Linked DNA regions of Homo sapiens: regions 2 and 3 are each linked to region 1. Evidence: fine-mapped expression QTL. A gene starts in region 1. Each other region holds a variant in brackets. All regions are shown on one strand. Distances are from middle to middle. Region 1 holds the start of ATP8A2 (ATPase phospholipid transporting 8A2). Region 2 overlaps ATP8A2 (ATPase phospholipid transporting 8A2). Region 3 overlaps ATP8A2 (ATPase phospholipid transporting 8A2).

Region 1 (5,731 bases):
TTCAGGGAAAGAAAAAGAATTCTCCCTTTCCCTTCACTTCCTCCTCCAGGAGGAAAGGGCTGCTCTGGCTTAGTTAAGTTCAATGACACTCATCGACCCACAGTGCTAGGGACTTGGTGTGGCTCCTACTGGGGGCTGCAGGCTGCCTTTCTACCTGTCTTGTGAACGCGTAGGGTCGTGGCTCTAAGAATTGAGGCAAACTCTCTTTGTTGAGGAGTTCTTGCTTTCACAGACAGAGCACATTTCCCTGACTGTCCTGGTTGCGGTGCCTTTTGCGTTTGCTGTTTCTCCTCACAGGCTTCTTTATCTCCTTTGGTTCTAACCTAGGCTGCCTCTGGCAAGGGTGAAAGGATGTCTCCAAGCCAAGCCTGGGTCACAGGGTGATCCACATCGGCACTGGATTCTAAGCATAATAATAAATACTGTCCATTTGCTAGCTTTTGTCCTTTGTGCATATATTTCCCTTGAAGACCTCAGAGATGGGATTTAGGTCTGACTCTGGCCAATGCCAACCTACTGATCTCCCCAACATTCCAAGAGGCAGTCAGATCAGGGGAATTAACCAAGACATCAAAGAGACAACACAAGTTGCTGTGAAATATTCACCTACTGCTCCTTGCAGTCTATGCTGTGATCTTCAAGGTGCACCAACTGAGGTATATTTCACACACCTACAAAGCTGTCAGGGCAGTTTGGTTATTGGAAGATAAACATAGAAAGAGCAGCAACAACTCTGTTTCATGATGGGGCTGCACAAAGTCAGGGTGGGACATTTGGTCACTCTTCAGTGATCAAGGCAAATATTCTATATATAACATACTCTGCTTCTTAAAAATTAAAAATAACCTTTATCTACTCTTTCTATTCCCACCTAAGTCAGAGCAAAAAAACCCAAAATGTTTTCTATTTATCTTGAAGTTTGGGGATTGAAAAAAACCACATTTTCCTTTTAAGTTCCTTTCAATTCTGGTTAGGTCCTCAAGGTGTTATCATAGACAGAAGATTTACTGAAGCATAGTGACAAGTTTTTGACAAATCCAGTCCTAGGATTAGCCCCAGCTTTAAGATTTATCCTCAGCAGCAATGAAGATCCACTGAGAAAACCTCTCCCACTCTGAAGCTTAGCTCAACAATTTAGAAAATTTTATTTTGATTCATCTTCCTGATAAAGATTCATTTCTTATCAGAAAAATTTTTTGAGGGCCCAGAAGAGACAGGTAAAGAATCCTACCTGAAGCTACATTTAGTGTAGATTCTTGCCAGCCTGCAGTTTTCAGTGTAAGTTGCCTGTCCCTTTGGATGTTGTTTTTTGTTTTGTCTTGTTTTGTTTTTGGTGGAGTCTTACTCTGGCACCCAGGCTGGAGTGCAGTGACATGATTTCCGCTCACTGCAACCTCCACCTCCTGGGTTCAAGCGATTCTCCTGCCTCAGCCTCCCGAGTAGCTGGGACTACAGGCACCTGCCACCACACCCGGCGATTTTTTTTTTGTATTTTTAGTAGAGACGGGGTTTCACCGCGGTAGCCAGGATGGTCTCCATCTCCTGACCTCATGATCTGACCGCCTTTGCCTCCCAAAGTGCTGGGATTACAGGCGTGAGCCACCACGCGCGGCCTGGATGTTTGTTCTTAAGAAAATTAGAAGCAGAGGCCGGGGGTGGTGGCTCACGCTTGTAATCCCAGCACTTTGGGAGGCCGAGGCAGGTGGATCGCCTGAGGTCAGGAGTTCGAGACCAGCTTGGCCAACTTAGTGAAACCCCGTCTCTACTAAAAATACAAAAATTAGCTGGGCGTGGTGGTGGGCGCCTGTAATCCCAGCTACTCGGGAGGCTGAGACACAAGAATCACTTGAACCCGGGCGACGGAGGTTGCAGTGGGCCGAGATAGCGCCATTGCACTCCAGCCTGGGCAACAAGAGCAAAACTCTGTCAAAGAAAAAAAAAAAGTAAAAGAAAATAAAATCAGATGCAGAGGCCAGGCAGGAGGAGCTCAGGCCGCACTGCTGTCTTTGCTAGCACAGATTCTTTTTGCTGAACTCTGTACTACTCCTTGTCAGTCCCTAATGTTAATTTAGGTTAAAAGAAATGTAATGCTCGCATCAGTAAAAGCAAGGTCAGACTTTCACCTGAACAGTTTTATTTTTGTTTTGTTCCGTTTTTACTCCGAGGTCAGAATGTCATCAGGCACAATAAAGATAGCTTCTTATCTTCATGGGATTGTGCCCAGAAAGACCAAGCACAGTCTAAACATTACGCGATAAGAAAAAACAAAAAATAGATCAAGTGACCTTGGACAAGTCATCTTACCTCTCGATGGTTTTGTTTTATGAAAGAAGGTGTGTGTGTGTGTGTGTCGATGGGTGTGTGTGTGTGTGTGTCGATGGGTCTGTGTGTGTGTGTGTGTGTGTCGATGGGTGTGTGTGTGTGTGTGTGTGCGTGCGGGGGTTGAGAAGGTTGCTGTTAAGGTTCCCTAGGGCTACCTGCAGCTTTAATATGCGTAGTTAGAATGTCAGGCAGGTTGTGGAGAGTGGGGGGCTGGAGACCCCCGACTTCTCTGAGTGCCAAGCCACACATCAGACACCTTGGAAATAACCCTTCCACGAAGTCCCTACACAGATCCCACCAGGCTGGGCACGGAAGAACAGAAACTGCGAAAAGAAAGGGACTGGATGAGTCCTGGGGAATCACAGCGCCTCCACTTGCACAGGACAAGTGACAGGCAGGTAAATAGGTAGCAGACAGGCAGAGACTCCGAGTCCCCCAGGTGCACCCCTCTCCTGGAAGAGCCCCCGAAAGTACAGGCCCAATCTCCCACCCCACCAAGCCCTCCCCATCGCCTTCCCCGACACCTAAAAGCCCCGGTCCTGCGTAATATTGCGGATCCCTCCCAGCCTCCCGTCCGCTCCTCCTCCCGCGGGGCTCCGCTCAGGGCCGGTCCCCCGCCCCCACGCCGCAGCCCGGGCCAGCGGGGCCCGCCGCGGTGGCGTTCGCGGATGCTGCCGCATTGGCCGCTGCGGCACGGACGGCGCAGCCTCGGGCGCGGCCCGGCACAGGCGCCGGCGGTCCCCGCCAGCTAGCAGCCCGGCGAGGCGCTGGCCCACCCATGGTCCTCGGGCGGCGGCCCCTGCGCCCAGCCCTGCGCGTAGCCTCCGTCTCTCGCCCGGGGCCGCCGAGCCCCCGACACGGGCGAGATGCTGAACGGCGCAGGCCTGGACAAAGCTCTTAAGATGTCCCTGCCGCGGAGGTCGAGGATCCGCTCGTCCGTGGGTGAGCTGGGAGGGGCGCGGCGAGGGAGGGTGGGCCCGGGGCGGGGGCGGCGCGGGGCGCGCCTGCGGTTATGCGACACTGCCCCGCCCGCGCCCCGCTCCCCTCCCTGGGCTCCCTGGGCTCTCTGGGCTGCAGGATCCGCCGACGCGGCGCGCTGGCCGCACGGGGGCTGGGCGTCGCTGCACCTGCGGGGCCAAAAGGCTCCAGGCCGGGGCGAGGTGAGCGGCGGGCGTCAGAGACCCCCGGCTCGTCCCTGTACAGATGTGTGTGTGTGTGTGCGGCCTCCCTGTGCGCGTGCCCGTGCGCCCCTACGCGCGGATGCGGCTCAGGGATGCGACCTAGGCGGCAGTCACCGCGATGGTGGGCACGGTTTGGCGGCGCAGAGAAGATGCAGCCTTCCCTGCCGGCGGCCGGCACCGCTGTGCTGCAGAGCTCAAAAGCAGAGGGGGAAAAAGGCATCCGAAGGGTCCCTCGAGTGATTCTCACCACTTGGAGCCCCGGGTCCTCGCGCGCTCACAGCGGCGACGTACTGGCTCATAACCATCCGTGCATACAACCATCTGGAGACGAACACACACACGCACACGCGCGCGCACACACACACACAGGTACACACACACGTACACACGCACGCGTACACATACCCTGCCTGCAGGCGCCTGGGTGTTGGAACTCGAAACCTAAAGCCAAACACGCATGTACCATACCCGACCACTCACACTGTTAGAGGCCCGCGTTCTATGATTATAGAACACATTTAGAAACTATGATGTCGTGGAGCTGGATGTTATGTGGCTATGACACTTGATAGGGTTACCTAGACCATTAGTTAATGCAGACGTAAAGAGGAGCCCCAAAAATGATTTCTTACCGTTTCAGGACTGCGGCAAGTTTGCAGGTAGATCTTTGACATGAGGAAGGTAGAGGGTGTACAGTTTGGAGCTGGGGTCACTTGTCTTCGTGCTTTTTTATTTGTTTTGAGAAAATAGGCACATAAAAATAAGCGACTTTTGTATTTCTGTAGTTGAGTAACGTGAGAGGGAAGCAAGCTTATCAGGTAATTTAAGCCAATGTTTGTTAAACTTGGGTAAAGTCAGGACACTTTCACATTCATTTTGAGGAGAATCCCAGCCTGAAGGGGTCACGGGGTGCAGGGTCAAGACTAAATAGCAGGGAAGAGCTGTGGCAGAGAGACAGTGGGAGGGCGCAGTCATACAGGTGTGAGAATTTCCCAAGGTGGAGGCAGCCTGAGGAGACCTGGGGACACCCTCTGTACCTTTGCAGGTGGGGCCAAAGGCATTTGCTTATGATTTGGATGTGGGGCTTCAGTACAAGAAAAGAATCAAAGATGCCCCCAAGGGTTTTGGTCTGAGACACCGGAAGAATGCACCCCTTGCTGAGATGGGGAAACTGCGGAGGACCAGGGTTCTCTTTTGCGGTAAGGGAGGGTGTGAAGAATTTGGTCTGAAATGCCTACCATAGATCCAAGAGGAGATGATTAGTAGAGAGCTGGATTTATGAGTCTGGGGCTCCGGGGAGTGTGCAAGGCCAGACATAGAGATTCAAGAGTCGTCGGCAGGACCGGCTCCAAGAGTGTATGCCCTGCAGCTGCTCAGAGTCTGGCTCTTACAAGAGTCAGCACTTGCTTGGATGTTCTGCCCAGTGTTGCTGTCTTGAAAGTCTTAATTTTTGAACAAGGGGCCCACCTTTTCATTTTACACGGGCCCCTAAGAATTATGTGATCAGCTGTCAATGTGTACAGATGTGACTTAGAAAAGAGGGGTCCTTGGATAGAGTCCTGGGCACTCTAACATTTTGAGGTTAGGGAGATGAGGGTCAACAGAAGGGGCCTGAGAGGATGGCCAGGGAGGTCCCCGGAAACCCGGAGGGAGTGCTCTGAAACTCAGTGTGGAGATGTTCAGGAAGGGGTGGGGTGTACCTGTGCCCAGTGCTGCTGAGCTCAATAAAGATGAGGCTGGAGAACTGTCATGTAAGTGGAGGTCACTGGTGATCTTGAAAAGAGCTGTTAACATATCATTGTGGGGAAGAACGCCTAATAGAGCAGGTGTAAGAGTAACAGGACAGGAACTGGAAACAGCAAGTCCGGAAAACTCTTTTGAGTGAATATTGCAGAAAAGGCAGGGGGAGAAGCAGATCGAGTGGTAGCTGGAGGAAAATGTGAGTTCAAGAGAGGTCGCTTTGTTTTGAGACTGTTCTACAGTCTGACGGCATGAACATCAACGCAGGAAGCTTTTAGGGAGCAGGGGGGAAGGCAGTGATCTGAGAGTAACCGTGAGAAGCAGGGTCCTCCTGGCAGAGCAGTTAAGGCAAGAAGTTTCAGGAATAGTCAGAGGGGTCGGGTTGTGAGGGATCTTGCTGATGATAGGCTGAAAGTTCCAGGAGACAGAGTGGAGGCTCTGAGATGGGGCCTGTTTAGGGTATTTGCATAATGTATGGAGAAGAAAGA
Region 2 (5,731 bases), 630 kb after region 1:
AACATAATTTGGAGAAATCAAGAGCAAAAGAAAAGCTTCTTGTATTTACTCATATTTTGCTTACTATATTCTTTCTTTTTTATGTTCCAAGATTTCTTCTTTTATCATTTCCTTTTTGTTTATAGAACTTTCTTATTATTATTTTTTATTTTTTGAGATGGAGTCTTACTCTGTTGCCCAGGCTAGAGTGTGGCGGTGTGATCTCAGCTCACTGCAACCTCCGCACTCTGGCGTTCAAGCAATTCTCCTGCCTCAGCCTCCTAAGTAGCTGGTATTACAGGTGTGCACCACCATGCCTGGCTAATTTTTTTTTGAGACGGAGTCTCACTCTGTTGCCCAGGCTGGAGTGCAGTGGCACAATCTCAGCTCACCGCAACCTCTACCTCCTGGGTTCAAGCATTTCTTCTGCCTCAGCCTCCCAAGTAGCTGGGATTATAGGCACCTGCCAACACACCTGGCTAATTTTTGTATTTTTAGTAGAGACAAGGTTTCACCACATTAGCCAGGCTGGTCTCGAACTCCTGACCTCAGATGATCCTCCCACCTCGGCCTCCCAAAATGCTGGGATTACAGGCGTGAGCCACCATGCCCAGCCCATCTTTGTATTTTTAGTAGAGACAGGGTTTCACCATGTTGGCCAGACTGTTCTTGAACTCCTGACCTCAAGTGATCCTCCTGCCTTGGCCTCCCAAAGTGCTGGGATTACAGGTGTGAGCCACCGTGCCCCCACCTTATAGGACTTTCTTTAGCTATTCCTGTAAGATCGTTCTGGTGGTGACAAATTTTCTTAGTTTTCCTTCCATTCAAGAGATTTCTTTTTCATTCCTGAAAGATATTTTCACTGGGTTGACAGTTCTGTTCTTTCAGCACCTGAAAAATGTTGTGCCAGTTGCTCTGGCCTCAGTGGTTTCTGATGAGAAATCCACTGTCAACCTACGTGGTTTTCCTCTATTGGTGTCATTTCTCTTTGGCTGCCTTTGGAATCTTTGTCGTTGGTTTTTGGCAGTGTAATTAAAATCTGTCTTGTTGTGGATTTCTTTGAGTTTATCCTCTTTAGAATTGCTCTGTAAGTTTATATTGTTCATCAAAATTGGGACATTTTCAGCCACTATTTCTGAGTGCTCTTTTAGCCCTGCCGTATTTCTCCTCTTTTTCTGAGACTCTGAAGACGTGAATGTTAGATCTTCTATTATATTCTTACAGGCTCCCAAGGCTCTGTTAATTTTTATAGTCTATTTTGTCTCTATTACTCAGACTGGGTAATTTCTACTGTTCTATTTTTCAGTTCACTAACGATTTCCTCTGTCCCCTGCATTCTGCTGTTGAGCCCATCCACTGAGGTTTTTATTTCAGTTGTTATATTTTTCCGTTCTGAAATTTCCTATTTGTTCTTTTAAGTCTTATATTTCTTGGCTGCGGCTTTCTATTTTTTTTCTTTTAAGTGTGTTCATAATTACTTATTGAAACATTTTTACCATGGCTACTTTAAAATCTTTGTCAGACAATTCCACTGTTTCTGACGTCTTGGTGTTAGCATCTATTGATCATTTTTATTTTTCTCCCTGTTTGAGATCTTCCTGGTTTATGGTAAAATAAGTGATTTTCAAATGAAACCTGGACATTTTGGCTATTATGCTATGGACTCTGGATTTCATGGCAGCCTGGCTCCTGCCGGGTAGAGGTAATCCAGATTCACTAATGGCCTCTGTTTATGTCTTCAGGGTAGGGATGGGAGCTCCTGCTCTCCAGGTGCAGGGGTCCTGATTCTCCATAAGACCTTTTCTGACATCACCCAGTGAAGAGGGAAAAGGATGCCTTCACATTTCACTGGGTTGGGGATGGAAGTCTAGTCATCCGAAGTGATCTCTGCTGACATCCCAGAAGGGAGGGGTCCTTATTGGCTGGCAGGGATGAAAGTCAAGGATCCCTGCTTGGTCTTCTTTTTCACCTCCCCATAAGGGTGTTGGAGAGCCTCATAACAGTCTCCTAAGGGAAGAAGTCTAAGAGCACCACTAGGTCTTTGCTGGCATGGGTTGGGGGTGAGGGGGCCACCTTTTTCTCTGGGGTATCTGGCTGCAGATGAGTACTTCAGGCCTGAAAGTTTTCTGTCTTGCTAGGCTGCCCCTTTCCTGTTCCTTTGTCTGGAGAGAAAAGGCATTTGCTAGGTAGGCTTCTTTGTTCATGCCTGTGGACATTCAGAATCGTCCTCTGCCTCTACTGGGAAAACCTTGTCTGGGACAGAGGAAATCAAGCACTGTGCTGCTACAAGCCTCTCTTCTCTCCAGTGCCCAGTTTTTATTATTAGAGGAAAGTTGGGTCCAGGGAGGACTGGAGGAATCTGTTGTTTATTTTTGGAACGGAATTTGTATTAGGGTTAGTTAACCTTGAACCCTATGGTGTCTTCAGCCAGAATGTCCCCCAAACTGTCCCATGTAACCTGAATTCTTAAAAAATTACAATGTTTCATCTCTATAAATCCACAAACACTGCTCACAATATCTTCTGGAATTTGGAGTGAGCTTTTCTCTC[T/C]GGAAGAGAATAGGGACAATGTCCATATTCTGGCATTTTAAAAGAATAATACAGAGGAATTTACCTTGGCCACTATTGGAAAACCTACTGTGTCCTGAGCTCAATGCTGGGCGTTATGGATAGACACGAGACAAATGGTGAAGGATTGAGTTGTGGAGACACAACATAAGAAGAGAGTCGCACCACAAATCAGTTAATACAAAGCACACATGCAATTTTACATATTGAACCGTGTCCTCTGTTTTCAGCCCAGGATAGGTACTGTGAAAAACATAACAAAAAGTGTAAGACTTGGTTCCGGCTGAATGAACCCTCTAGTTGAACACACAGATGGTGTGCTGGTGTTTTCCAGGGATCACTAGGCACAGTGCTGCTTCTCAGTCTACCAGCTCTCCATGGGTTTCTACAAGCTGAGTCCAAAGTTGCATCTCAGCTTTGACCTCTCTCTGGTCCCCTGTCTTCTGAACACCTCAGAGGCGCTCACAGGCCCCACATCTGAAACTGGATTCATTGCTGTTCCTGCTGAACCTTTTTCTCCTCCTGTGTTTGCATCTGGATGGTCAGCAAAGGGCCATCCATTGTTCAGGACCCAGCTTCAGTGCTGATTCTCTCTGCCCTGCTCCAAGTTCTTCACTCCTCCACGTCACCTCTCCTGAGCCTAGCACAATCTCTGTAAGGGCATCATCACCTTATAGCATGGTAAGTGTCTGCACGGCGAGGTCACCTTAAAGACTGTGAGTTCATGAGGGCAGAGGCTGTGTCTTGGGTAACTTTGTTTCCAACATTGGGTCTCACACACAGTAGGCGCAGTACAAATGCTGAATTAATGGGAGGTCAAGAGGTCATGTTTTTAAAAAGAAGATGCATATGGATTGGCAGAAAGGGGAAAGGAGAATCATCTACTACCATCTAACAGAATGGAATTTCTGGAGGGCTCGTAGTTCCGTGGTATATAAAATAAATATAACTCTTATTGAAGTTTTAGGCTGGAAAACCGATTTTGTTTTTGTTTTATTCTTGTGATTTTCCTTCATTACATAAGTGTCTTTAACTAAGGTAAAGTTTTAGATAAAACAAAGGTCTAGGTAGGTCTGGAATACACTTGAGCCCCGAAGGTTTTCATTTCCTAATGATAATGAGTAAAATAAGTTGCCAATTGTGGCTATGAAATATCATTCTCTAATAAAGCAGGTTAGAATGTTAACAGCCTGGTGGATTGGTAGATGTTTGGCCTTCCCTGAAGGACAGGGAACTGGGGACCAGCTTTTTTTCTTGAGGGCCTGTCACATCTGTGTTTTGCAGACTGCCCAGTAGCTAATTTAAAAATAAGTTTCTAAAATTACCTACTTGTTTTTGGCTTTGTTGTAGTGTCAGCTGTGATTCCGGTCAGTTGTAACTATTGACAAGATCTAAAATTCAGATTTGGAGTTATTTGCTGTGTACTCCACACTCCCGCTCTTTGGCAGTTATGCATGTGTGATTTTTGCAGGAATAGCTTTCTAACAGAAATGTGGACACAAGAGTTTATTTTTCTCCATCATAACTCAGCTCTCCACTTCTTCCTGAGACTGATCATTTTTTGAGGCAGGAGCATAACACCTTCTCTAGGATTTGTCAGCTTCTAAAAAGAGCCTTTTGTAAGGACTTGTATGAGCTTGGGTTTCACCATCATTACTGGGGAGGCACTAAGACTGCACATATCTCTGGGTGAAGTAATGTCTACACAACACCTTTCATAGCAATAGTTCCCAGCTAGCATACCTGCTTCTGCCAGTACAGAGCCAAAAAAAAAAAAAAAAAAATTAAGTACTTTAATGCCAATACCCCCCACCATGGGAAAAATAAACTGTAAAAATGGCATCATTACCAACAGCTCATGTGATAGGAGGGAACTGACCTTGATTTGGCACCCAATCCACCTTTTTTTAATTCAATTTTCTTTCTCAAAAAAATGTGATAAAATGCACATAGCATAACATTTACTATTTTATAGTTTGCCATACATGGCAGTTGGTAGAGTCACAGTGTTGTATAACCATTACCACTACCTAGTTCCAGAATATTTTCATCTCCCCAAAAGGGAACCCCATATGTGTGACGCAGTCCTTCCCACTTCCTTTCCCCCACCTCCCTGCCCTACAGCCCCTGGCAAACACGAGCCTGTTTTCAGTCTTTACATATTTGCCTATTTTGGACATTTCATATAATCATGTAATACACAGCCTTTGAGGTTGGGCTTCTTTCACTTAGCATAATATTTTCAGTCTTTATCCCTGAAGTATGTATCCATCTGTACCATATTTCTTTATATGGCTGAATAATTCTCCATTGTATGCATAGACCACATTTGCTTACACATTTGTCAGTTGGTGGACATTTGGGTCGTTTCTACTTTTGGCTTTTGTGAATAACGCAGCTAGGGATATTGTACTGGTATCTGTCTGAGTCCATTTTCCATTCATTTGGGTATATTCTTAGGAATGGAATTGGTGAGTGATGAGATAATTCTGTGTCTAACTTACCAAGGAACAGTGGCTGCACCATTTTACATCTCACCAAGTAATGTGCAAGAGTTCCAGTTTCTCCATATCCTCTCCAACACTTATTTTCTGAGTTATTTTGGTTTTGGGGTTTTTTTAATAGCCATCCTAGTATGTGTGAAGTGCTATCTCATGGTAGTTTTGATTTGCATTTCCCTAATGACTAATGATACTGATTATCTTCATGTGCTTTTTGGCTATTGTGTATTTTCTTTGAATAAGGGTCTATTGAAGTCCTTTGCCCATTTTTTAATCAAGTTGTTTGTTTTTTTGCTTTTGAGTTGTAGGTGTTCTTTATATATTCTGGATACTAGACCTTTATCAGATATGATTTGCAAATATTTTCTCCCATTTTGTAGTTGTCTTTTCATTTCCTTGATAATGACCTTTGATGCACAAAAGTTTTTAATTTCCATGAAGTCCCATTTATCTGTCTTTTATTTTGTTACTTGCATTTGGCCATTGCCAAAGCCAAGGTCATAAAGATTTGCCCCTGTATTTTCCTCTAAGATTTATATTGTTCTAGCTCTTATATTTATGCTTTTTATTAATATTAATTAACAAACTGTAATTTATAAGCCTCTGGGGTACAAAGTTATGTTTTGATACAGCTATACAATGTGAAATGATTAAATCAAGCTAATTAACATTGTCATCACCTC
Region 3 (5,731 bases), 350 kb after region 1:
AAGTTGTGAGAGAAGAAACAGTGATGTGCAGTGTATAAGTTATAGGACTACTGAATATATAAAGCATGAATTGCTTATTTAGTTTTTTCCTTTAATTTCAAAGGGCCAAACATACCGACTCAGAGGCAGGTTGGCTAGAGTGGAGTTAGGAAAATACTCTTTCTGGAAAGAAAGGTGACTTTAATCATTGCTGCCTATACATGCCACTATCACCAGTGAGTCTTCACTTAATGTGCATATCCACCTGCTGGCAGCATTGCCAGAGTGACTGTCTGAAAGAATGGCCGCTTGTTCATTCGTTCATTCATTCATCAGATTATGGTAGCATGGATTACAGAGGTGAAGAGAAATGAAGAGATTTGAGGGTGGTCTAGATGTAAAATTGGGAGGATTTGTAGTCACATATGAAAGGTAATAGTAAGGAAGAAGGAGCTATTGAGAATGGGATCAGGGATTTGGGATTTTGGTAGTTATGATAGCCATTGAGTGCTGAGAATGGGTTAGGCTCTCTATTGAGCTCTGTCCAGGCATTATTCCATATGATCCTGAAAAAACTAAAAAAAAAAAAAAAAAACACCAAGGTAGGCACTACCACTACCAGCAGCAGCAGACAAAACCAAAGCTTAGGGGAGGTCAAGTCACTTACCCTAGATCACAAAACTATGAAACTGGGTAAGTGGTGGTGCCATGTGCTACTTTAATGTACTTCTTTTACTTTGTTGAGCTCTTCTTTTCAAAAAGCATCTAAAGATTGAATGAAGAAATATACAACAATTCTAACTAAATGTTTAATGAAGAAATTTTGAAGGGAAAAAATAGACCAAAACCACTTTCTTATAATCTCACCGACTGTGTATAATGAATGGCTGTCCTTTGGTGGATATGTTTCCTTTTCGAGAGATCAACCCTCATCTGAATGCCTCCCTCAGTATAGCTGCTGCTGGTCTTGTAGTATGTGCTTGGTTGTGCAGTTCCTGTGGTCTGGCATGTACCTAATGCACACAGATTGGATTGAAGATTGAAGTTAACCTCGCTTATCGATGGCATTTTAATTTCCTTCCTCTTACTACATTATGTGTTTTTTATGATAGTGCTTTAAAGTCCAGGCTTATAAGGAAAAGGAAACAATCTCCTATGCAAGTCCCCAGGGTTTCAGTGAAGCAGATGGCAGGAAGGGTCTGGGCATGGTGTGTGTTGCCTGTTTCAAAATTATGTCCCATGCACCCCAGCATTTATTCCCTTGATGTTGGCACTGGGCAGGTGATCAGATTTTAATTTGTGTGGCGTGGTGGCCTTTTAGAGTAGGATAATAACATTGGGAAAATTAGGTTAAGATCAATTTGTCATTTATTTTGTCGTAATAAAATAGAGTAAATCTTTCAAAACAGATTTACGTAAGTTCCTTGAATTGGAGGAAGCCTCAAATCTAAAACTTCATTAAGCAACATCTTAATATCACAGAGACTCGGGGTCAGAAAAAATTTAAATGACATATAAATTAGTAGAGTTTTTCGTTTGCTATTCATTTTTTTTCCCGTTTTATTGCCCTGGTATTCTGAGTCTCTTGGTTCATTCTTACGTGTGTATCATTTTGGTTTGGGTTATGAGTGCTCACTGGCATACTGGTATACAACACTGAGAGCCAGTAGGCTGTTATTTTGCTGCCATTCTATTGTGTCTAGAGAAGTATCCAGGGAGAGGGTTGTTTGTTTTTACTTGATGAGGTGCAGAAGTTGGGACTGTACTGAAAAACAGAATGCTAAAGAGCCAGCTCCAATCTAGGAAACATCCTCCAAGAGCACCCCCTGAGACAGAGTGTGAATCACAGAAAGGAAATTAGATTTTTTTAGCCCCAAATAAGAAAGATTAAAACACCAGTAAATTGTTTTACATTGATTTTACTAAGGTTAGTTAGAAGTAAAGGCTTACAAACACGTACTGTTTATTTAGTGATAGATGAAACTTAGAGGCGTTTCTTCTGTTGTAATTGGTTGGCTCTTTGCATTGATTAGAACTAGGTAGACAAGTTGGTACAAAAATGGCAGGAGTGGAAGGGAATGGGCCCCTGTTGATGTGTAAGAACATACGCGTGCATGTGGGGACACCAGTGGCATTTTCTGCATGTTTCGGGGTTTCAGAAGACTTGCCTTGTTCTGCACCTCTAAATTAGACCTACTGTGAAAAACTTACAGGTCAGTTTCTGGGAGTGCTTTTCTTCCTGGACTTTCCCAGGTGAGCACTTAGATCCTGTGAATCCATCTCCGTGTCGGAAACTTCCGTGATCCGGCTCTATGCTTTAATTTTGAATGTCTTGCTATTTCATTTCTTTGAAAATAAAGCAGTTCCACAACATTACAGCCCTGTGCTGTCTACTCATTCTCCTTTGGGGATTGCTTGTTTTAATTGATTGATTCACAGAGGAGAAAGAAAAACAATTTGTTGCTTTGGCAAGATTGGTTTTTCTAAGGATGCTACTGTCTTGCTGGGTCTATGTGGCAGTTAGTAAGAGAAGCTGGCTTAGCAGTTCTGAGGCTGACATGAACATTGCTTCTTAAATTGAAAGGTTGGGTGGGTGGATGGGTGGATGGGTGGATG[G/C]GTGGATGGGTGGATGGATGGATGGATGGATGGATGGATGATGGAGATAGATAAGATAGATAGATACTTGCAGCAAGCATTCCCAGAACATTTGTTACTCACCTCACTAAAATTAAGCTGTTGTTATTTTGAGATGAGATGGCAGATAAGGTAGATTCAATCATTTAACATCCATTCCAATCTCCCGTCTGTGTCTTTTCCTGTCCTGCTGATACTAGAAAGCTGAAAAATCATCCCCTGGCAGCAAGGGTTCTGAAAATGACTAGCCTGTCAGAATCACTTATGTAAGACTTGAACACAGAGCAGAATTAAGTGGGTAGAGGGATGGTGTGGTCCAGACATCAGCTTGCTGGCCTGACTGGCAGGCGAGCTGTGCCCAGAGCTGGCATCGCTGTGGGGCCCCCATGGTGGCCCCTGTAGCCCATGCTTGGAGGCAATGTAAGGATGGGGCTCTGGTGGGGCCTCTGGTGGCTCCTGTGTCCTGTGCTTGGAGACAGTGGTATGAGGACAGGTTTCCTCATGTAGCATCCCCTCTGTGCTGGTGTCTGGGTCTTGGGGGTCATCCTGGAGGCACAGCTCAGAGGCTATTCTTCAAGTCTCTCTCCTGATTTTATAAGCTCCGAATTCTTGTATAAAGTTACCTTCTAGTTAAAATACCCAGCATGATTTCTGTTATCTGCACATGACCTCCGATAAATGTATACTTTTTCTTTTTTTTTTTTTTTTTTGAGAAGGAATCTCACTCTGTCGCCCAGGCTGGACTGCAGTGGTGCAATCTCGGCTCACTGCAAGCTCCACCTCCCAGGTTCATGCCATTCTCCTGCCTCAGCCTGTAGCTGGGACTACAGGTGCCCACCACCATGCCAGGCTAATTTTTTATATTTTTAGTAGAGACGGGGTTTCACCGTGTTCACCAGGATGGTCTCAATCTCCTGACCTTGTGATCCGCCTGCCTCGGCCTCCCAAAGTGCTGGGATTACAGGCATGAGCCACTGCGCCTGGCCACATGACCTCTGATAAATGTATACTTCTATGGGACAAATTTTCAGAGTTGGCAAAGAAAATAGGTTCATCTTTATGGACCTTGGGATCTCCGTGTGAAACTCTCACCTTCCCTCAGGTCGTCCACTCATCTCACACGTGGCCTCTTCCCTTACACAGGAAGGCAACTCTGGGACGTTTGCTGATGATGGCTCATCGTGCCCACCCCTCAGGTGTGAAACCTCAGAACCATGTGCATTTCTCCTCATCCTCGTCCCCTTTAACCATTCTCCAGTTCTTACTTCCTGATGCTTGCTTCTTTTGAGTCTAACTTTTCATTCAGCCTTCAGCAATCCCTGTGCTACGACAGCCTCTGCTAAGAACTTCATGCAACTTGTCTTATTATAGCCTCATAAAAACCCTGTGGGAGGAAGGTTAGATGCCATGTCCCAAGGCTGAACGTAGTGCTGGACTGGGCAGAGAGGCCTCAGCTCTGACTGGTCTGAGCTGTGGGAGCTTTAGCTTTTTTTTTTTTTTTTTTTCCTGACACAGAGTCTTACTCTGTCATCCAGGCTGGAGTGCAGTGATGCAATCTGTACCTCGAACTCCTAGGCTCAAGTGATCCTCCCACCTCAGCCTCCCGAATAGCTGTGGCTACAGGCTCATGCCACCACAAATGGCTCATTATTATTATTATTATTATTTGGTAGGGATAAGGGTCTTGCTGTGTTTCTCAGGTTGGTCTCAAACTCCTGACTTCAAGTGAGCTTTTTTTTTTTTCAATAACAGTTTTGTTGAGTTACAGTCCATATACTAAATAACTCAGCCACTTAGATGTACAGTTCAGTGGTTTTTAATATAGTCACAGATATGAACAGCCATCATCACACTAAATTAAGGAACATTTTCATCACCTCTAGGAGAAAGCTTGTGTTTGTCTGTTTTTGCTTTGGTTGCCTGACTCTGAGGTCTTACTCAAAAATCTTTGCCCAGACCAGTGTCCTGAAGCATTTCCCCAATGTTTTCTTCCAGCAGTTTCACAGTTTCAGGTTTAACATTTACATCTTTAATCCATTTTGACTTGAATGCTGAGAGATAGGCCCGAGTATGTACAGCTGTTATGTATCAGGTTTTTAAAACAGGTAACCTGGTACACTTGAACAGCCCTAGCCCCCTGCCCTAAGCAGCCACTTACCTACTTCCCATTTCTATAGATTTGCTTGTCCTTCCCATTTCTTGTAAATGGAATCATACATCATGCAGTCTTGCATGTGTCTGTCTTCTTCCACTTACGACAGTGTTTTCAAGGTTCATCCACATCCATGTATGTGTGCTTCATTCTGTTGTATGATTGAATAATATTCCATTGTATGGATATACCACATTTTGTTTATCCATTCATCAGTTGATGGACATTTAGGCTATTTCCACCTTTTATTGTCTATGATAAATAATGCTGCTATGAACACGCATGTACAAGTTTTTGCAAGGATATGTGTTTTCATTTTTTCCTGGGTATATGCCCAGGAGTGAAATCACTGGCTGAATGGTAACTGTATGTTTAACCTCTTGAGGAACCATGAAACTGTTTTCCCCAGTGGCTGCCTTATTTTACACTCTCACCAGCAGTGTGGAAAGGTTCTAATTCCTCTACATCCTTGCCAATGCTGGTATGTGACTTTTTGATATTATGTGATGTCATGTGACTTCTCGCTTATAGCCATCCTAGTGGGTATGCAGTGGTATCTCAGTGTGGGAGCCGTGGCTCTGAACCCCATTGCAGTAATACCCTCTGCTCCTTAGTAGCCTCCTCAGTTCAATTTCCCCTTCTTCCTTGATGGCAGTAGCTGATCCCTTTTGTTTCCAGGGCCTTCATCAATAGATTGCTACCTAAGAGGGTTACTAAAGTACTGTTTGGTCCCAAGACTTCCTTGAACAAGGCCATCAGGAAGTTCCCCATTCCCTATAGGGTGCTGCCTGCATTTTGCTGGGGTTACAGGTACCCCATTATTGGCCTCAGCCTTGCATTCTGCTTTTCTCTCAGGCAGACTTTCTGACCAATGAGACTGGTATATGTTTTGCATCCTGTACATGCTATGTATTTTGACACTTCTCTTTCTTGATCCCCTTTCTACCCATATCATCCAGAAGGGAC

The links. PIP is the estimated chance that this variant, and not a neighbour inherited with it, causes the effect.
Region 2: its variant is the best candidate, but not a certain one, in a credible set for the expression of ATP8A2 in nasal epithelium (TOPMed, PIP 0.71).
Region 3: its variant is the best candidate, but not a certain one, in a credible set for the expression of ATP8A2 in whole blood (TOPMed, PIP 0.62).

Annotation. Positions count from the first base shown.
Region 1 is chr13:25,369,025-25,374,755 of GRCh38, forward strand. ATP8A2 (ATPase phospholipid transporting 8A2) reads left to right here and starts at 2,950. Exons shown (of 37, transcript NM_016529.6): 1 at 2,950-3,264. The coding sequence starts at 3,189.
Region 2 is chr13:25,996,389-26,002,119 of GRCh38, forward strand. The region is part of intron 35 of ATP8A2 (ATPase phospholipid transporting 8A2); the gene reads left to right. Among named protein-coding and RNA genes, the nearest start is that of SHISA2, 53 kb to the right of the region's middle. The variant T/C (reference allele first, on the strand shown) is at 2,530.
Region 3 is chr13:25,716,863-25,722,593 of GRCh38, forward strand. The region is part of intron 25 of ATP8A2 (ATPase phospholipid transporting 8A2); the gene reads left to right. Among named protein-coding and RNA genes, the nearest start is that of SHISA2, 330 kb to the right of the region's middle. The variant G/C (reference allele first, on the strand shown) is at 2,596.